Linked DNA regions of Homo sapiens. The protein of the gene in region 4 purifies or fractionates together with the protein of the main gene of each other region. This does not show direct contact. Each region holds a gene or a part of one and is shown on either strand. Other genes may lie near its edges.

Region 1 (5,234 bases), on a different chromosome or scaffold from region 4:
CCATGTCTTAATCTCACCTCTAGACATTCTGATTGGTCTGGGTGGGGCCTAGGTATCAGTATTTTTAAAAAGCGCCCTGGGAGATTCACATGTGTGCCCTAATGTACTCCAAGATTGACAACCGTGGCCTCCCCATCTCACGGCCCAGCTGGAGTCTGGTGACTCTCACCTGTTCCTCTGGCACTTTCTGTCGACACCACACAACTGAGGACTAGATGAGTCTTGTTTTCTCCCTACCGCCTGTTTAGTCTTGCTTGCAGATCAACTTGTGTTTAAAGCTTGTCTCCTCAACAGACTGTAAACTCAAGAGTGGGCGGATCACACCTCATACTTCTTTTGTATCCCCAATAGGACTAATGGGGTACCAAGCACATGGAAGGTGTCTAATGAAAATGCCTCTTCTCAGGTAGCTGAGCCTATAGTGTAGTGGGCACTGCAGGGACCACATGATGAAAAAGCAAGCCAGACCGATTTCTTGGAGCTTACAGGTTTGGAGGAGGAGTAAGTCATGAACATGCAAGATTAGGCTACGAGGCAGACCATGAGGTGTTACAGGAAAGAAGCAGTAACCCAAGGGAAGGGAGAGGCCCAAGCCCCTGGGAAACTGGGGGAGGCTGTGCCTACGCCTTCCCTTGATGTGGGCCTCAATGGGCCAGTGGGAGGAGGGCAACAAAAGGAGTAAGGTGGAGAGGGAGAAGCTACGAGCAAACACACCAGAGGGAAATCTGCGGTGCCTGCAGCACCACACTGTCGCAGCAGCCGAGTGCAGAGGAATGGGAAGCAAGACCGAAAAGGCAAGATTTCACCATCCCTTGATGGCAGGAAAAGGTGGTAATTAATTTGGTAAGTCCGGGAAGCAGCCACTGAAGGTGGCAAGTCTGCTTCCTTCTAAGAGCCAGGCAGAGGGCAAGGCGAAGGGGAAGGGGTAGGAATAGATCTAACATAAAAAAGGAGGGGTGAGGAGATGAGAAGGGAAAAGGGAGGCCTAGAGGCAGGTTCCATTGCCTCTGGAGAGCAAGACAACCCCCCGCCCTGCCTTGATATACACACACTGGCAGGGGCTCCGAGTCTGGCAGGGCCCAGCAGCTCAGACACCCTGATTCTTGCCATTCAGTCTTAAGCCATGGTTTACTGTACAGGATTGAAATTATGTTAATAGTGTCATTCATGCTAGTAGTGTCACTTTATTAATACATTTAATCACAGAAATAAAGGTTTTATTCATGACACTATCACTACTGATAGCACTACTACAAGAAGCTTATTCTTCAGTTCTTTTTCCCAAGTCAATGGGCAGCTTATAAAGAAATACAAAGACCCTAGACCCTAAAGACTGCATTAGGCGAGAGCCATTCCACGGTTTACTTCTCCTTCCCATCATCACCATTTTTAGAGAGGTGCAATGGGGTGAAATGAACACTAAGGGCTAGTTAAGAAAATAGATCAGGCCAGGAACAGTGGCTCATGCCTACAATCCCAGCACGTTGTGAGGCCGAGGCGGGCAGATCACCTGAGGTCAGGAGTTCGAGACCAGCCTGACCAACATGGTGAAACCCCGTCCCTACTAAAAATACAAATAAAATTAGCTGGGCGTGGTGGCGCACACCTGTAATCCCAGTTACGGGGGAGGCTGAGGCAGGAGAATCGGCTGAACCCAGGAGGCAGAGGTTGCGGTGAGCCAAGATTGCACCATTGCATTTCAGCCTGGGCAACGGAACAAGACTTGGTCTCAAAACAAAAACAAACCAAGAAAATGGATCACAAAAGGACAGCCCATGAGATGCCTGTGGAAGGAAGGGCAATTATACCATGTTTCTACTTAACACATAATCCTTCCTACGTGCCAGACACTGGTCTAAGCACTTTACAAATAAGAACTCATTGCAACTTCCTAACCCCATAAGGTAGGTACTATCATTCCTCCCAATTTACAGATGAGGAAATGAAAACATAGAGGCCAAGTTTCTTGCCCAAAGTCACAGGGCTAGTGAGCAGAGCCAGAACAAGAACACAGGCACTCTGGCTCCAGGCTAAGTGGCCTGACCTTATACTCAGCTGCCCCTCACTATGCCTTTTAGGACAGGGTGCAGGTTATAAACACATGAGCCTCCTTCTCTCCAAGGGACTGCCAGATGCAGAAAGGCACACAGGAGATAGTGTGGGCCTCAGGGATGCTGCTCTGGTTATGTATCAGAAATGGAGCCCCCAAAGCATCAGAAATGGGGAAGAGCAGAGTGGAACGAAATATACAGACCCTGAGTTCACTGCCCATCATTCTCAGAGTCCAGAGCTACCACCCTTCAGGATCATAAAAACTAGAGCAGGCAGAAGCTCTCCTCAGCAGAAAGTCAAGAGGCATTCAAATCCTCCACTCTCTAAGACAAACTCTACTCGCCAAAAAACTTTCCAGAGGAAATCAGCTTCACTGATTACTACTCTCATCAGTTGGTACTTAATGCTCACTGGCTGTTAGACCGTATCTACACTGGGCACCTTTCTGGTTTGTGGATTACAGATAAGCCATATATCGCTGCCCCTAACGAGTCAGTGCACTACAGCCACGTTAGATTATGTTTCACTTTCAGGCCTCAGGGCTTGAAGCAATTCTATTTTTAAGCTTTCTCAGTTCCAAAAAGGAAAAGAAGGCATTTTAAGGAAATTAGCGTTGGCTAAAGGAATGACAATTTCCTCTTAAAGAGTTAACTGATTAGCCACTTTGCTAAACCAGAAATCTTGGAGCTAACCACAGAGGAAGAACACCTTGTTCAATGTTACTGGGCAAGGGCTGGGGACCTCTGAAAGCATGACAGTCACTCAGGATGTTGGTGGCCCAGGACAAAACTCCGTTACTACCAGAGGGGCACTGTGTGTCCTTCTCCCCAAGAAAGTCTCAAAAATCCTTTTAGATTCTATTCTCTATGAAGCATGTGTCACTTTTTGAGCAACAGAATTGATATAACCACAGAAGACAAATTTGCGAATATCAAATAAATCTTTAAAAATATTACTATCACGTTTTGAAGAGTCATTCTTTCCTTTTTTAAATAATTCCCTTTCATTTAACATCCAAAGTAGCCTTGCTTATTTTGTATCTTTGGGAATAAGTCATTACCCCCACAGCCAACTGTTTAAAGGACACTTCTTTATGTGCGCATTTTTAAAAAAGGTAACCACTCCTGAAGGAAATCTAAAATGTGTCCTACACACCCCAATTTTCCCATATAGGGTTCATGAGACACAGTTAACCTTCTCTTGGTGAATGAGGCTTCTAAGAATTCAAGAGTCTCCCGTTTCGGTTTTGGCTTTGCCACTAGCAAAGACCTGTGACCTTGGGCAAGTAATTTAACAGCACTGGGCCTGAATTTCCTCACCTGCAACATGAAGGGGATTGGGCAGATGAGGACTCTTGTGCCTTACACTTCTCAAATGTTATGATTCCAAGACCAGTGTAAATGCCAACTATTGCCCATGCCAACCTAGAATATCGTTCTCAGGGACTGTCAAGTTCTAAGAATGTTGTCTAGACCACACAAATGGCCCCAGAGAGTTGGGCTACGGTAATGGAAAGCAGACTAAAGTCAATTATTTTTTATTCTTTTTGTCCCCTTTCTATTCCATCAGCTGCCAATTCTCACTGCTTTCTACCTCGAGCTGACATAAACCCCTGCCTTAGTTTACAAAGCTAAGTGGGGGCCTGCATCACTTAGATTCTTCATCAAAGCAAAGTGCATCTGGCTGTGTGATACAATCTGGCAACCAGTGGCCTTCATCACTTCTCCTTCAAAGTTACATTGCATTGGATAGGAGAGTATTTGAGGGCAAAAATTATATTTTTTAAAAGTTATATTGTAGACAAATATGGTGGCCATAAGACTGACCCCCAGTTAAGGTTGGGGAAAGAACGTACATTCCTTGAATTCCAAAAACACATTGCTTTTAGAGGAGAGGGTTTGAAACAAGTGTGAACAGAATATAAACCAATTTCCCTCTTATTGAAATAGAAACTCGGTATGTTATCCCTCTATAATAATCCCCACTCTGTAAGTTTCCTGTCCCCAAAGGCAGTTGTTGCTTTTTAGTACCTTCTGTGGTATAACTTTTCTTTGTGAAAGATACATTTTCCTCGTCACTTTCTGAAGCCAAAGAGAGGGTCAGGGTAGGAAGAAGGAGACACTATTAGTGGTTTCCTATATTTACTGCTTTCCCAGTTATCTTCCATTGTTAAGTCCCATGAACAATGATTAGTAGAAAAAATGCTTTTTAGCAATCGTGAATACAGTCTCTGAAACATTATTTTTAAACTGCTAACAAGAATGAAAATATGCATTAAACCACGTACTTAGTACCTCAAAGAATTCAGGGAAGATTCCCCTTTTTAAAAAACAAAATTGTGAAATCTACCTTCTTTACCTTGCTTTCACCACGTTTTACCTTGCTTTTACCACCTTTCAGGTGGCTTCATGGGAATTTATCAGGGATCTGGTGAGCATAGGCAATTGATTTTGACTCATCCTAGTTACAGCTGTTAGTAGGAAGTAGATGACTAAAAGGGAATTGAAGTTGGCTAGCTTGGGAAAGTAGATGTAAACTGGTCCTACAAATGGAATATTTGTAAAATCAGGTTAACTTAGGAAAACCAGCCAGAAAATTAACTATGAGTACTTGAAGCTATTTGCCAAATGGGTCCAAATCCCTAGGAAAGAGGTTAAAGGTATGGATGATATATCTTTGCAGATGGCATTAAAGACAGAAGAGTTAAAGGAAAACTACTGCTTTATATATTTCTGAGAAACCACAATAAAAGCTTTCACCCCGTCTGTCAATCTCCAGGTAATGTTATTTATGCACGTCTAGGCTTAGAGTATTATTTTCTGTTTTCAAGTTAGCTTTACACAGTATAACATTAATCTCAGAATCCATTCTTCCAAGTAATACACAAGGTGGCGATTTATAGAAAAACAAAAAATCCTTTCCTGTTCACAAGGTGGAGTTCTTCAGCCCACAGTGCCATATTTAAGGGTGCTTTGTTTCAGAGGATGATTAGAGTGGCGCCCTTGGTACTGATTATAGTGGAGCTACCTGTAGTGCCCAAGTCTGGGCACTGCATTATATTAAAACTTCCATTTTGGGGTATGTAGTGACTAAAAATTGTCTCCCAGCTTAAACTTGGCATCAACCATATATCTCAGCAGAAGCAAGATTATTGAGTATAGAACCACAGGAACCCGGCACTT
Region 2 (5,029 bases), on a different chromosome or scaffold from region 4:
GTGGGAGCCGAGGCGAGTGCGACACATGGGCCGTGGCCCACTCAGCTTCCCCTCAGCCAGGAGGCCAGGAGGCGGGGACAGAAGCACACACACCAGCAAGGACCCACAGACCGGCACTTTCAACCAAACAGAGACACTCCGGCTCGTACACAACCAGCCGTGTGGCTTCCTCAGTTGTGGGCTGGACCCTAGGAGCTTAGGGGCCACTGTCAGCCCCACTCTACCACCCACACTTTGACCCACACTTTCATGGAATAGGGAGCTGAGGTTTGGCCAGGGCCACAGTTCTAGGTGTCCTCAGCAGATGCTGGAGGTGCAGGAGCAACGTGAATCCAGCCTGCCGTTCGTATCATCCATTTGAGTCGGTCCCCTGTCCTGCCTCAGAACCTACCACCAGACATCTCAGCCCAGCTTCCAGCCCAGGGTCCTCGGTGGTGGTTGCCTCAGCACTGAGACAGGCGTCCCCCTCCCATAGGAAGTGCCTCCCCAGCCAAAAACTGGGCTCTTGTACCAGCCCATGCACTCAAGGCCCTGGGGTTCTGGAGGGCCAGGTGAGTGGAAAGACCCAACGCACTGAGTGAAATCACTGCCTCGATTCAACTTCGGCTGCGTTCATTCTCTTTAAAACCAGGACAGCAACCTGACGTGGAAACTGACTGAACAGGACTCTGAGTTACCAGAATAACAGAAGTAAAATTCTATACATCTTCCAGCATACCTGTGATGCATCCCAGCATTCCACAGAACACGCCGTTGACAGCTGGCAGTCGTGTTTAAGTGCTGATCTGAGATCTGTACTGTGTGACCAAGTCTGTGACACAGAAGGAACTCTCCTGCACCCCTGCTCCCCAGGCTGCTGGAAGTGCAGAGTGGCGCCGTCAAACAGAACTCTGCGCGGGGATGGAACTGCTCTAGGTCGACGCTGTCCAGGATGGTACTCATGAGCCACATATGGTACTAAACCCTTAAAATGCCACTAGAACAACTGATGAACTGAATTTTGTATATTTTATTTAATTTTAATTAAACGTAAAAAGGCAGGACATTCCAAGGCTCTCTAACACGAGTGTCTGCAGCCCCATTCGCTTTGAGATGTGAATGTGTTAACCCAGGGTGGACAATGGTGTTGACTTCATTACTAGATAAAAATCCATGTTATTTTGTTTCTCGCATTGAAAGGCTGCTTGGCTAAGGTTCTGTGAAGATCCGATGACATTTCCAACACTTTGCCTTGTCTGCTTTGCTCTGACAAAGTGCTTATGACTACTAGATCTTGCTCGGTTATGTGAGATTACAATTCACCGGTTTCCATCCTGTATGAAACAGAAGTTAAACAGTTGTAAAAGCAAAATTCCAGGTCTGGTGGTTTTCCTGCCAGGTCATGATGAAACCATCCTACTTCTGTTGAACCTCGTCCCAGGCAGGATCGGGGCCTGCGGCCTACAGCCTGTCTTCCCAGCGCTCCAGGGCTCGTGACCCTCCTCCTCCCCTCACTTCATTCTGCGCTCCAAGGGCACTGGGGAGAGTCACAGTGGTCTCCTCTCCCCCGCATTGGCCTAAAGCAGGAAGAGAGCAGCCCAGTCACTGAGCAGATCCCTGCTAGGGCAGGGCTAGAACCCAGACTGCAGCTCACTCGAGATTCCTGAGAGAAGACTTTGTGTTTGGAGTGTGAACGTCAGGGTGCCTCGGGAAGCCAGGGAAAGCTGATGACTGGGTGCTGGACAGGGAGCAGGGCCACTTCTGTACCTCTGCACACTTCTAGAATGCGGACTCATCCTGCATCCATCCAGTATGTATTTATCCAAGCGTCAGTGCCTCTAGTCATGAGACACACAGGGGTCCGTAAAGCCCACCTGGCGGTAGCTGCTTTCCCCACAAACCCAAACTACATCCCCAAGGTCAGGGCCAGGCTCTGTTGAGTAATGCTCCCCATCACAGCACGCAGCACAAGGCTGGCTGTTTGACAAATACACACATAACCAAAAGACATGTGAATGTGGTTTCCCAACTCACTTTAAACAAATATTCCGGGACCAACTTCAAGGACGTTCTACAACAGAAACTGGACTGTACTCTTCACAAACATCAATGTCATGAAAGACAGAAAGGCTGAGGACCTGCTCCAAACGAAAGGAGGCTGCAGAGAGGACAACTAAAGGCAGCGCTTGATCCTGGATTGGATCCTGGACCAGAAAAACAACGGCTTTCAAAATCATTATTGGGACAGTTGGCAAATTTGAAACAGGAACTACAAATTAGCAACTCCTGGGCTGATCAGAGAATATTACACATTTCCTGAATTTGAGAACTGTACCATGGGCATGTGAGAGGCTGTCCCTGTTCTTGGGAAATGTTCACTAAAACATCTTACGGATAAACGAGCATGATGTATACAAATAATCCTCAAATGGTTCATGGTTCAGAGAGGATAGGAAGAAACAGGGGTGAGGGAGAAGAGGAGGGAACGAATGAAAGAGAAAATGTGGCAAAATGTTCTTTGTTGTACCCTTCAAACTGCTGTGATTTTGAAATTATTTCAAAATAAAGTTTTAAATATTTTAAAAAATTTTTTTCTTTCTCCCCTTGATACCAGGAAGAATAAAGTTTTTAAAAAATGGGCAGGTGGGCCAGGCGCGGTGGCTCACGCCTGTAATCCCAGCACTTTGGGAGGCCGAGGCGGGCGGATCACAAAGTCAGGAGATCGAGACCATCCTGGCTAACACGGTGAAACCCGGTCTCTACTAAAAATACAAAAAAAATTAGCCAGGCGTGGTGGCGGGTGCCTGTAGTCCCAGCTACTCAGGAGGGTGAGGCAGGAGAATGGCGTGAACCCAGGAGGCGGAGCTCGCAGTGGGCGGAGATCATGCCACTGCACTCCACTTGGGTGACAGAGCGAGACTCCGTCTCAGAAAAAGTGGCCAGGTGCACTTGTAGTCACAGTTACTTAAGAGGTTCAAGCTACTTGGGAAAGCTTGAGCCCAGGAGTTTGAGTCCAATCTAGACAACATAGTATGAACCTGTCTCTTTAAAAAAAAGTTGCAAAATGTTCATGGATGGAGGAGACGTGCTCGGCGTGAGGTGAAAGGGCTGCCTGTGGGTCGGGCGTGGTAGCTGACACCTGTAATCCCAGCACTTTGGGAAGCCGAGGTAGGCGGATCGCCTGAGTTCAGGAGTTTGAGACCAGCCTGGGCAACATGGTGAAACCCTGTCTTTACTAAAAACACAAAAAATTAGCCAGGCGTGGCAGCGTGTGCCTGTAGCCCCAGCTTCGGGAGGCTATGGTGGGAGAATTGCTTGAACCTGGGAGGCGGAGGGTGCAGTGAGCCGAGACTGCGCCATTGCACTCCAGCCTGGGCGACAAGAGCAAGACTTCATCTCCAAAAAAAACAGAAAGGGCTGCCTGCTGTCTTCAGAGTGAGTCAAAAGCACTGAGGCACAGCCTTCAGACACAGGAAATGGTTCTATTCTCCCACTTGCCTTCTGACTCTTAGGAAGCCAGAAAGAGTGACGGCATTGCTGAGACCAGAGCCCAGGGCTGCAGAGCAGTGGTACTCACGACCTTTGAACACTCGGTAGGAGTGCCCTGCTCAGTGCCAAGGCCTCACATGCGAGCCCTCATCTGAGCCTCTCAGCCACCTACAAGGTCAACCCGATTTCTCAGATAAGGATGCTGCCTCTGAGAGGCCACATAGCTAGTAAGGAGCAGAGCTGGGACTCCAAACAGGCCTGTTTCCTCCAGAATCAGGACTCTGAACCACCACAAACTCTCCTGCCTTCAGCTCTTTTGGTGTGTAGACTTTTTTTATTTTTGTTTTTGAGATGGAGTCTTGCTCTTTCATCCAGACTGGAGTGCAGTGGCACAATCTCAGCTTACTGCAACCTCTGCCTCCTGGGTTCAAGCGATTCTCCTGCCTCAGCCTCCCGAGTAGCTGGGACTACAGGTGCCCGCCACCACACCCGGCTAATTTTTGTATTTTTAGTAGAGACGGGGTTTCACCATGTTGGCCAGGCTGGTCTCGAACTCCTGACATCAGGTGATCCCCGCCTCGGCCTCCCAAAGTGCTGAGACTACAGGTGTGAGCCACGTGCCCAGCTAGGTGGTGTGTAAACTTTAAAAAAGCAGAGATTTCATCCCACAAATGCAGACTGGGATCTCCACATGACCAGGTGCTGTGGACTGAACTGTAAATGTCCTCCAAATTCATATGTTGAAGCCCTAACCCCCAATGTGGCTCTTCTTGGACATATGGCTTTTAGGAAGTAATTAAGGTTAGATGAGGTCATAATCCAGCAAGATTGGTGGCCTTACAAGAGCCATGTGCAGGCACCAAGAAAAGCCTACGTGAATAAGACAGCAAGAGGGTGCTCACCATGTTGGCATCCTCCGGCCTCAGATCTGTGGGGGACTGCGGGGGTGATGGGACAGGGAGAGAACAAGGAGTGGATTTTCTTGTCCTTTCTAAGGAAGGGGCTGGGAGGGCGAGGGCTGCACTGGGTGCTGGGACCAAGGGTCCAGGGGCTTGGATCTCTTGTTTACAAACCCCTACTTCTTTCCTGCTATCTAGCCCACACCCCTGATGCTCCCCGGAAAGGAGAGCAAGGATCCTTGAACACGCGTTAGCACTAGAAGGAAACTGGAGCTCACCCCAGTTGAGCCCTCCATTTGACAGACAGGGAAGCTGAGGCCCAGGGAGGTGAGGGGACTTGCTCAGTCTTTCCAATTGAGTATGTGGGGCAGAAGGAGTCCCCAGAGCCCCGGCCCCAGCCACCATCCTATTTGACTTTCCCCAACAGGCATTCTACCTCAGCTAAAGATGCTGCCTGCCTCTCACAGGCCCTGAGGAGAAGATGGCCACATCACAGGATCGAACACTACCACAAAACTCCTAGGAAGGGACAGGAAGGTGAGAATCCTTTCTTTTTTTTTTGAGACGGAGTCTCGCTCTGTCGCCCAGGCTGGAGCGCAGTGGCGCGATCTCACCTCACTGCAACCTCTGCCTCCCGGGTTCAAGTAATTCTCCTGTCTCAG
Region 3 (5,452 bases), on a different chromosome or scaffold from region 4:
TTCAGAGCTAAATAAAACATTAACAGCTAGAGGGCAAATGCTGATAAATCTAAATAGCTAGACCCAAGAAGGTGGGAGTGATCTGCAATTAAACACCAAGAAAGAAAAACTAGAGAATTCCTTGACATCAATACCAAAGAAACCAAGTTTATAGTGCTGTTTATATAGAAATAGAAAGGGATAAAGACAGTAATGAATATTGTGGAATGTTTTAGGATGTTAAAAGATATAACTAAGAACTGAAGACAAGAAGTTTAACGTCCAAATTCTAATAAAAAAGGCCAGGCGTGGTGGCTCATGCCTGTAATCCCAACACTTCAGGAGGCTGAGGTGGGTGGATCGTTTGAGGCCAGGAGTTCGAGAGCAGCCTGGGCAACATGGTGAAACCCCATCTCGATTAAAAATACAAAAATTAGCTGGGTGTGGTGGTGCAAACCTGTGGTCTCAGCTACAAGGGAGACTGAGGCACAAGAATCACTGGAACCCAGGAGGCAGAGGTTGCAGTGAGCTGAGATCACACCACTGCACTCCAGCCTAGGCAACACAGCGAGACTGTTTCAAAATAACCAAAACAAAACAAAAAATGAATTCTAATGAAAGACAATCACATATTACAAAGGGAAAAACTAAAAATTGCAACAATCTTTTAACATAAAAACAGAAGGCAAACCAAGAATAAAAATTTAAACTATATACACAAACTGTCTAAATTCAACAACTAAAAGTGTTTCAATTTGTCATTTCAAATTGCACTGTTCACAAGAGAAAACATTAGAACTTAAATATAACCTCCACGAGACCAAGGATATTTGTGTTGTTCATTGCTCTACGTTCACTACCTTCAGTTTTTTGAATAAATGCAAAAAGAATGCCAACAAATACCAAAACTGCCTACTGCCCAATGCTGCCATAGCTCTGATTCAGTGCAGATGGAGTTTTACACAGGAACTACTTTTTCAAGAGGACAATTTAGAATGCAAGCCAAAAGCTTTAAAAAGTGCATATTCTTTAATCCAGGAATTACTCAAGAAATTTATACATTTTTTAAAAAGATCACCAAATGCATCCCACATAGTTCCTTTACAATAAACAAAAGATAAACAACCTAGCGTCCTGTCCTATATGCGCTCTACCAGATGACTCAATTATATTCCATCCATCCATGGAATCCTAGACAATCATAAAAGGACATTTATGTTAACATGGAAAGTGAAGATACGCTTTGAAGAATAGGCTACAAGAGAGAATACATTACACAATCCTACTGCTGTATAAAACAAAACATCTGGAAGAATCTATGCTTAAATATTAATAGTGTGTCCCGCAAAGTGGTAGGATAATAGTGACTTTTATTCTTTTTACTTATCTCTATTTTCTCATGTTTCTGTAATGAACATGTTTCATAAAACAAAATGGGTCTGTTATAAAAATCTGAAAACTTGTTTTTGAAAGAGAGCAGTATTACAGGCTGTAGTGTCAAATAAAATATTAATGTTAAATATCACACGCTCCCGTGAAAATAACCAACATTCTTAATTAACCTTTCAGTTCTGTGAATCTAATACTAGATCACACCTTGCTATTTCTGAAAATGTTAGTCCTGATAAAAATTAAAAACCATAAAAGAGGTAACAAATTGGCTGAAGAAAGTAAAAATTGGCACTTTAGCTTTGAGATCTTAAATCTACTTAAATAACACTAAGCAATACTTTGTCCAAATGTAAACCATTATACTAGCTGACATTAAGAATTATGTGGCCATCAGAAGGCACTTTCTTCAATAAAAGATGAATATTAATCAGACACAACTTTATATGTAATCTTCAACTAAAAAAAATTTGAGCTCACTTTTCATGTTATATAGCTTCAAGATAAAGACTTCTTAGAAACAAAAGTTCATTCTCACTTTGTTCAAATAGGCTTACGTATCAGGTAATCACTGGAAAGCAAAACTTACATTAACATACACTATGTCAATCAGATGTAAAATCTGTGCTATTATTTGAAGTACAGAACTTAGAATATATTCTTAAAAATACAATTAACACATCCCCAACTTTCTATGCTAAAAAATAAAGAAGACTGTACTACAGAGATGCCTTGATTCCAAGTATCCCACTTACTTTCCACAACCAAAAGTTTTGTTCCAGTTTTCATAAAGCTCTAAATCTTTTGGAGAAACACTAGGTCGCACAGTTCTAAAAGCATTTTCAAAATCAATGTAAGCTATGGGTCGAACTTGATCCGGTGTTATGGTAGCAATGTCAGCAGTTTGTAAACTGCGAATAGGACCAAGAGAAGCCTCCCTGCAAAGCTGTGTCATGTCTGCTCCTGAAAACGCATCAGACTGCTGTACAATCTGTTCAATTTCTTCTTCACTGAGGCAACACTGCTCTTTGGACATTAGATTAATTACTATCTGTTTCCTGGCTGAAGCTTCTGGGAGGGGAATATAAAGCCTTTTCACCAATCTTCTCCGGGCAGCCTCATCAATTTCTTGTGGCCGATTTGTTGCTCCCACCACTAGGATACGATCTTCAGAAGATGTTGTTGCTCCATCTAATTGAACTAAAAATTCTGTTTTTATCCTTCTAGAAGATTCATGCTCACCATCTCCCCGTTGAGATAACAAGGAATCAATTTCGTCAATAAATATCACAGCTGGTTGCTGACACCTTGCAACAGCAAACAATGCACGGACCATTTTCTCCCCCTCACCTACCCATTTAGAAGTTAAGGATGAAGCAGAGATGCTAAAGAATGTTGCCCCAGACTGACTAGCAATGCACTTGCCAATTAGAGTTTTACCAGTCCCAGGAGGACCAAAGAGCAAAATTCCTTTAGGGGGTCCCCTTAAACCAGTAAAGATGTCTGGCCTCAACATGGGCCACACAACTATTTCCTTTATGGTGGCTTTAGCAAATTCTACTCCTGCAATATCTTCCCAATTTACTGGAGGTCCATGATCCATAATCTCATTCATAATAAGTTCAATCATCTTTGGCTCCAAGTTCTTCAGACGCTCATCAACTGGATGTGCTGGTTCTGTAGGTCCTGCCCCATAAGGCTTACATTGCATTCCTCCATTCTGCTCTCCCCCATCTTGCTTGGGTATAGGAGGAACAAACTTTCCAAGTATCCCTCGGGATCTACTAGCTCCTAGAGACTTTTTTACACCACCATATGAAGACCCTGATGCACGCTGAGGTTGGTGGTACTTTTTTTGCTGATCTACCCATAATTGTTCTTTTGCAGTTTTAAATGTAGGCAGGCTGCTATCCTCCTTTGGGCCATTATCTTCTGTTTTACTACAAGCCTTATTCAGTATTGGATTGGAAAGTGCATCAATGGTGCCAGAACCATAAAAAGACTTCCTCTGTGGATTTTCACAGGCAGCAGGAAAACAAGACTGGTTAGATAAGAACACATTAAGTCCTATGTTTTCTTTTGCAGAGCTGTGATTTTCCTTTTTGACATTTCCAAACAATGGTGTGACATGGAATTTTGCAGTAGCTGACTCACCTACAGGTGCTGAGAATGTAGGACAAGTCCTAGCAGTGTTAGTCACCATAGGTGGCTGGGCATTCTGAAGGAGTTTCAAACGATTGCTCTCCGGGAAGTCTTGGGTCCGGTCTCGATCATGAGCTGAGTTAGGTAATGAGTCACTCTCTTGAGAACTACCACAAACACTAAATTTAGGAAGATCAAAGACAGTGGCCTCCTTATGGATTACCACTGATGCAAGAGCAGGTTCCAACAGAGAGTCTTTGAATTTTTTGCCAGCTTGCATCATCTTCTGTACACTACTCATTTTGAAAACATTATTTATTGACAATCCAGACTGCCACTTGTCACTATCTGTTTGTTGAGATCCTGCCAAAGTTAAAATGTTTTCTGCATAATTATTCAACCCAGATTCAACATTGTCAGAATCAATAATTGCAGAATATTTCTCTGCATATTTTTTGAACAGTTTGGTAGCACAGACCTGGGAAATCTCAGAGTTTGCCCATGCATACTGAATGCGTAATATCTGTGCACGGTATGCATCTGCCTTCGGTCCGGTACATATGCCAGATGTAATTGCGAAGTAATTCTTCTGCCATTCACTCAGGTGCACAGATCTAGAGCTGGAGGTCTGCATTTTAGAGGTTCTATAACAAACAATAAAAATGAAAATCAGTATGAAGGAAAACAAAGAAAATACTTTAAATGTAATTTTGAAACTTCTGCTAATCTGAAGGAAGGGACACTGGACTTTTTATTTATAATGTAGATTTATAAGGACAGGTTATAAGAGAAATATCTAGTTAACTATAGATTTCAAGTATTCAAGACATATCAATATGAAGTCTTCAAAATTAAGGACTTGATTAAATAATAATTTATATGAGTTAAATTGTTCTAGTTACATAATTTTATCTGTAGGGAAAGCATTCATAAGGTTTAAAATTAATTTTAAATTTTAAAAACAATGGAACTATAGATACATAAAGCAAAACAAAATAAACAAGAGGTTTAAGTCTGATCTATAAAACTAGGTGAATGAGCTTAAGTGAGCTTTTTACTATCACTGATGGTTTATTTTTATTTTATTATTATTTTTTTTTGAGACAGTGTCTCGCTCTGTCACCCAGGCTGCTGGAGGGCAGTGGCGCTCTCAGCTCACTGCAACCTCCACCTCGCGGGTTCAAGTGCTTCTCCTGCCCCAGCTTCCCAAGTAGCTGGGATTACAGGCACCTGCCACCACCCCTGGATAATTTTTATATTTTTAGTAGAGATGGGGTTTCGCCATGTTAGTCAGGCTGGTCTTGAACTCCTGACCTCAGGTAATCCACCCGCCTCAGCCTCCCAAAGTGCTGGGATTACAGGCGTGAGCTACCGCGCCCAGCTGGTTCTTCAGTTTTCTTATCTGCAAAGTGAGAGGAACCATTGGAAGAATCAAATCAAGCAATGACTATGAAAATAATCTGAAAACTATCATTATCCTTATCACACAAATGTACAAACCGAGGCTGAGAGACTTAAAGAACTTACTTGAGATCACACAGCCAGTTATGAATGGTATCAGAAATCGAACACAAGCAGTTTCACTCCAGGTACTGTGCACTTCTGCATGTACACAATGCTCCTTGATGCTGCTATCCTAGGTCACAGATTGAACAGCATGGATCACAAATTTAAACTATGGCATATTTAAATGGTTTTAATAACATTCATGAATAAGTTCATCACCCTAAACAGAATGCCCTAGAATATCTGTTTCCTAATTTCACATAATTATTAAAAAGTGAAACTGTTACAATAAATGAAATAAGAGAACAAGCTAGCCTACTAGGAAAATGCTTTTACTTTAGATTTCTTCTGTCAAGTTATTCGCATAAGCTTCCTCACATTGTTACCTTTAAACAGAACTATAGATGTATCATATTGCTAGATATATAGAATTTAC
Region 4 (5,234 bases):
ATAATAATAATTTTTTGGAGTCAGACACGTTAGGGTAGTTATACAACAATTTACTAATATGGTAAAGTACTCCCCCAAAAATAAAATAGCAGCCAAGCATGGTATCTCATGCCTGTAATTGCAGTACTTTGGGAGGCCAAGGCCGACAGATCACTTGAGCCCAGGAGTTGGAGACCAGCCTGGGCAACATGGTGAAACCCTATCACTATAAAAAATACAAAAATTAGCCAGGTATGGTGGTGTAGGCCTATGGTCCCAGTTACTTGAGAGGCTGGGGCAGGAGGATCACTTGAGTCCAGGAGGTGGAGGTTGCAGTGAGCTGAGATTGCACCACTGCACTCCAGCCTGGGTAACAAAACAAGACTCTTGTCTCTAAATAAATAAATAAATAAGCAAGCACCAATAGACTCAAGGACTCAAATTTTATATATACATACTTTCTTCTTTCTTCTTAGGGATTCCTGTATTCTAAGAGACACACATTATATTAACCAATCATTTTTCTCGCCTCTAAAAACTCACATTTAAATTTGTTCAGAGAAATAGAGGTGTTCTTTACCATTTTTAAAATCTAGTTCCTTCCAAAACGCTGGTCATGGTCATAATCTAGTTCAATTGTAACACTTTAAATCTCTGTATCTTCAATAAAAGGTATAATGCACTCATGAAAACATGAGGAATTTATAAGTGCTTTCAGCCAATACAGGGGCACCAATAACAAAGATCTGTATAAAAAGAGTTTGGAGAAGCTATCATGTTAATGCACAAACAAGTAGAAAAGAAAAGATATACACAAAACTTATCTTACCTGCTGAAAATTTTCGTTTCCCCAGTCTCTCAGTAAGACTCAATCTAACCAAGGGTTCTTCTCCTGAAATGGCAAAAGCAGAATTTCTCTATCCTTAGTCAATTTTTCTGTATTCAGTAACTACTAATGGGTACAAAGTATGTTCTGATATTAGTGTAAATCCACCCAGAAAGTCTCTTGAAAATCAGGTCTCAGTCTTAAGGAAGGCCATTATATCAAAAAAAAAAAAAAAAAACCCAAACCTATTAATAATAAACAGCCAAACATACAGCCTAAACAGAAGCAATAGCATAGTACTAATTATTATTATTATTTTGATAATAATAATAGACTCTTGCTCTGTCACTCAGGCTGGAGTGCAGTGGTGCCATCTTGGCTCATTGCAACTTCCACCTCCTGGGTTCAAGCAATTCTCCTGTCTCAGCCTCCCAAGTAGCTGGGACTACTGCGCACACTACCACACCTGGTGTTTTTTTTTTTTTTTTTTTTGAGACAGAGTCTCACTCTGTCGCCCAGGCTAGAGTGCAGTGGCCCGATCTCGGCTCACTGCAACCTCCACCTCCCGGGTTCAAGCGATTCTCCTGCCTCAGCCTGAGTAGCTGGGATTACAGGCGTGCACCACCATGCCCAGCTAAATTTTGTATTTTTAGTAGAGACAAGGTTTCACCGCGTTGGTCGGGCTGGTCTCGAATTTCTGACCTTGTGATCTGCCCGCCTCGGCCTCCCAAAGTGCCGGGATTACAGGCGTGAGCCACCACACCCAGCCTAATTTTTGTATTTTTAGTAGAGACAGGGTTTCACCATGTTGGCCAGGCTGGTCTTGAACTCCTGGCCTCAAGCGATCCGCCCGCCTCAGCCTCCCAAAGTGCTGGGATTATACATGTAAGCCACTGCGCACAGCCTAGAATAGTACTAATTATTAATAGCAGTCGAGTATAAGACAGATTGTATTCTTAACCAATTGGTTATAAAGCTGAAACTATCCTTTTGCTTATGCACTTTGATATGTTGAATGAAACTGTACTCTACTCCGATGTTAACTGTCCAATATAACTATCTCTGATCACCTCAGGAAGAAGTGAGCTCTCTTTCTTCTAATTCTTTGTTGTTTGAATTGCACAAACATTTAAATATATCTATATCTATAATTCCTTATTAGGCTTAAAATTATTAAGTGAAAATACTTCGTTACAGGCCGGGTGTGGTGGCTAACACCTATAATCCCAGCAATTTGGGAGGCTGAGGCAGGCAGATGATTTGAGGCCAGCAGTTCAAGACCAGTGTGGCCAACATGGTGAAACCCCGTTTCTACCAAAAATACAAAAATTAGCCAGGCGTGGTGGCGGGTGCCTATAATCCCAGCTACTGGGGAGGCTGAAGCAGGAGAATCACTTGAACCTGGGAGGCGGAGGTTGCAGTGAGTGGAGATCGCACCATTGCACTTTAGCCTGGGCGACAGAGCAAGACTCCATCTAAAAAAAAAAAAAATTAATGGCCAAGAACGGTGGCTCACACCTGTAATCCCAGCACTTCGGGAGGCCAAGGCGGGCGGATCACCTGAGGTCGGGAGTTTGAGACCAGCCAGACCAACATGGAGAAACCCCGTCTCTACTAAAAATACAAAAAAATCAGCCGGGCTTGGTGGCACATGCCTATAATCCCAACTACTTGGGAGGCCGAGACACGAAAATTGCTTGAACCCAGAAGACGGAGGCTGCGGTGAGCTGAGATCATGCCATTGCACTCCAGCCTAGGCAACAGGAGTGCAACTCTGTCTCAAAGAAATAAATAAAAAACTTTATTATATATACCTATTATTCTTTAGTCACATGGGAAGCCAATAAATGTATTGAGTGGATATAAACAGTAAATGGAAAAATATATGTGAGGGCTGCTTGACAAAGAATTTCAACCTTTTAAATATTAGAGTTGAATGTACCAACTTTTCATCTTTAGATTATCTCATCAGCATACTAACAAATTCCTGAAAATTCATCAAAGGTAAAAGATACCCAAGGATTTTGCATTCCCAATTATATAAAAGTAGAGGCTTGACAACTCTAAGACCTATCTATACCTTACCTTGTTTGGTGGAGAGAGTTACTGTCCTCACCACAGTCCTGACATTTTCTTTTTCAGGACCTGGAACGGGCTCAGGGTGGAGTAAAAGACTGGAAACTCCTGAAGAACCCTCTGAATAAGGCAAGTCAAAGAACAGCAAATAATTTATGGAAAATAATGCTATCCCAAGTCAAAAAATTTGTTTTTGTAACCAGTTAAGTCCAATACAGACTGATATTATGACTATAAGCCAATCAGCCTTTCTGTATCTGTTTGCCTACAGTCAAATGGAGTAGTGGTGAGGGGAGCCTTGGGCATGATGTGAAAACAAAATATAAAATTATTTTGAGTGACTTAGGCACCCAAACTACTTTTATTTACCAATAAGGCTAATATTTACCAATAAAGCTAGTATTATTCTAAAATTAACCTCAGAGGTACACTAGCCATCAGGTGTATCAATCCAACCTATTCTATTTAATCATCTGAAAACACAACTCCAAGGTTGCTATAAAGCAAGCCTTAAAAGAAGGTTTTTAGAACCATTTCTCTCTATATATACTACACTTCACACTATAAATTTTAAGGCTGGGGGCTGGGCGCAGTGGATTACCTGAGGTTGGGAGTTCGAGACCAGCCCAACCAACATGGAGAAACCCTGTCTTTACCAAAAATACAAAATTACCCAGGCGTGGTGGCGCATGCCTGTAATCCCAGCTACTCAGGAGGCTGAGGCAGCAGAATAGCTTGAACTGGGAGGTGGAGGTTGTGGTGAGCAAAGATTGCGCCATTGCACTCCAGCCTGGCAACAAAAGCAAAACTCTGTCTCAAAAAAAAAAAAAAAAAAAAAAAAAAAAAAAAAAAAAATTGGGGGTTGGAAATACAGAGCAATCAGGCTGACGTAAGCTCCAGAAGAAAATCCTAGCAGCTCTTGAGGAAGAACTCTTCTACTAGAAAATGACGTTTTTCCTTTTTTTTCTTTTTTGAGACAGAGTCTTGATCTGTCGCCAGGCTGGAATACAATGGTGCGATCTCAGCTCACTGCAACCTCTGCCTCCTGGGTTCAAGCAATTCTCATGCCTCAGCCTCCCGAGTAGCTGGGACTACAGGTGCATGCCACCCCGCCTGGCTAATTTTTTGTTTTAGTAGAGACGGGGTTTCACCATGTTGGCCAGGATGGTCTGGATCTCCCAACCTCATGATTCGCCCTCCTCGGCCTCCCAAAGTGCTGGGATTACAGGCGTGAGCCACCACGCCCAGCCTTTCCTCTCTTAATATAATTTCTTTTTAACCACTATAAGAACTTACAGAATTAATATAGTTCTTATATGATGTTCTTCAGAGCTATATTTTTCAAGATATACAAGTTCTTTCAGATTCTTTATTGTACCCAGCTCTGAAAAGTTAGGGACTGAAACACAGCTGCAGTGAATTAAAAGCAACCACAATTTAAATAAGTCTGTGTTTTACTTCAAACAGGCCATGGAAATGAAAATCTATTTGCTCATTTTGGCTGTTGCTTCTAGAAGCGTCCTTAGTATTCTTCCCTAGCAACATACAACTATCCATGCCAAAACGTGATGACTTACCACCTTGCTTCTTAGATTTTTCCTTCATTTTCTTTGACTTAATTTCCTCAAGAGTTTTTATTCCAAAATTCAAACATTCACCTGAAAATTCAAATAGAAATTTTATGAGGAACGGGAGCCTTTTCATCTTTGTATTTTATCTGTACATAGCAGGCATTTATTTTTGAATAAATGATCAACAGAAACTAAGTATAGGTAAGTATGCGTGTAGCATGGGAAAAAGAAGAGGGAGGTCAATGATTGTGAACTAAATTTCAAAGGTAGTTTCAACAGTGCTATAAGAGGCACCAATCTAGCCTCTTCTTACCTTGCTTTATATTGACTGCAGGTTTCCGGACAGAAGTCACTCGTAATCCATTGTGAACTTCAGGAGTTGGTTGCAGGGTAGGTGTTTTGGTTTCATCACCTTCCTCAGAAAACTGATCTATATATCAACATTTAAGGCAAATTCACAATTAAAAATACGCCTATAGCTTTAATCCTGATTCTGCCCAATTCACTATGAGACCCTATTTATTTGCCTTAAAGAAGGAGCCAGACAGAACTTACCATCATCATCTTCATCATCATCTGCAGCATTAATTACAACTGGTGGATGCGTGGGGCTAGGAACATTTTCGGAACTTTCTACTTTCATAACGCTCCGCAGCTGAGGGGAAGGATTGGACTGGACAGACAATTTGTTCTGCTGAACTGAAAGTTGGCTAGCCTTCACTTCCTCTTCTGGTGACTCAGGCACAGTGGGCAACACAGCTAAACGCACAAAATCAGTCATA

The links.
Region 1: the proteins of ZC3H11A (region 4) and E2F3 purify together in Homo sapiens (pull-down; one large-scale study listed by IntAct). This does not show direct contact.
Region 2: the proteins of ZC3H11A (region 4) and NCBP3 purify together in Homo sapiens (co-immunoprecipitation; 3 studies listed by BioGRID and IntAct, with this or other methods). This does not show direct contact.
Region 3: the proteins of ZC3H11A (region 4) and FIGNL1 purify together in Homo sapiens (affinity purification with mass spectrometry; one large-scale study listed by BioGRID and IntAct). This does not show direct contact.

What each region holds. Positions count from the first base shown.
Region 1 is NC_000006.12:20,407,134-20,412,367, reverse strand, and holds part of E2F3 (transcription factor E2F3), read right to left. Parts: intron 1-5,234.
Region 2 is NC_000017.11:3,801,169-3,806,197, forward strand, and holds the end of NCBP3 (nuclear cap-binding protein subunit 3), read right to left. Parts: 3' UTR 990-5,029; downstream 1-989. UniProt on the Homo sapiens protein: Associates with NCBP1/CBP80 to form an alternative cap-binding complex (CBC) which plays a key role in mRNA export. NCBP3 serves as adapter protein linking the capped RNAs (m7GpppG-capped RNA) to NCBP1/CBP80.
Region 3 is NC_000007.14:50,443,144-50,448,595, forward strand, and holds the end of FIGNL1 (fidgetin-like protein 1), read right to left. Parts: exon of another isoform or gene 5,147-5,452; 5' UTR 5,038-5,146; intron 4,913-5,037; exon of another isoform or gene 4,825-4,912; intron 4,155-4,824; 5' UTR 4,145-4,154; coding exon 2,120-4,144; 3' UTR 990-2,119; downstream 1-989. UniProt on the Homo sapiens protein: Involved in DNA double-strand break (DBS) repair via homologous recombination (HR). Recruited at DSB sites independently of BRCA2, RAD51 and RAD51 paralogs in a H2AX-dependent manner. May regulate osteoblast proliferation and differentiation.
Region 4 is NC_000001.11:203,829,428-203,834,661, reverse strand, and holds part of ZC3H11A (zinc finger CCCH domain-containing protein 11A), read right to left. Parts: intron 5,212-5,234; coding exon 5,008-5,211; intron 4,883-5,007; coding exon 4,766-4,882; intron 4,540-4,765; coding exon 4,459-4,539; intron 3,002-4,458; coding exon 2,891-3,001; intron 872-2,890; coding exon 809-871; intron 1-808. UniProt on the Homo sapiens protein: Through its association with TREX complex components, may participate in the export and post-transcriptional coordination of selected mRNA transcripts, including those required to maintain the metabolic processes in embryonic cells.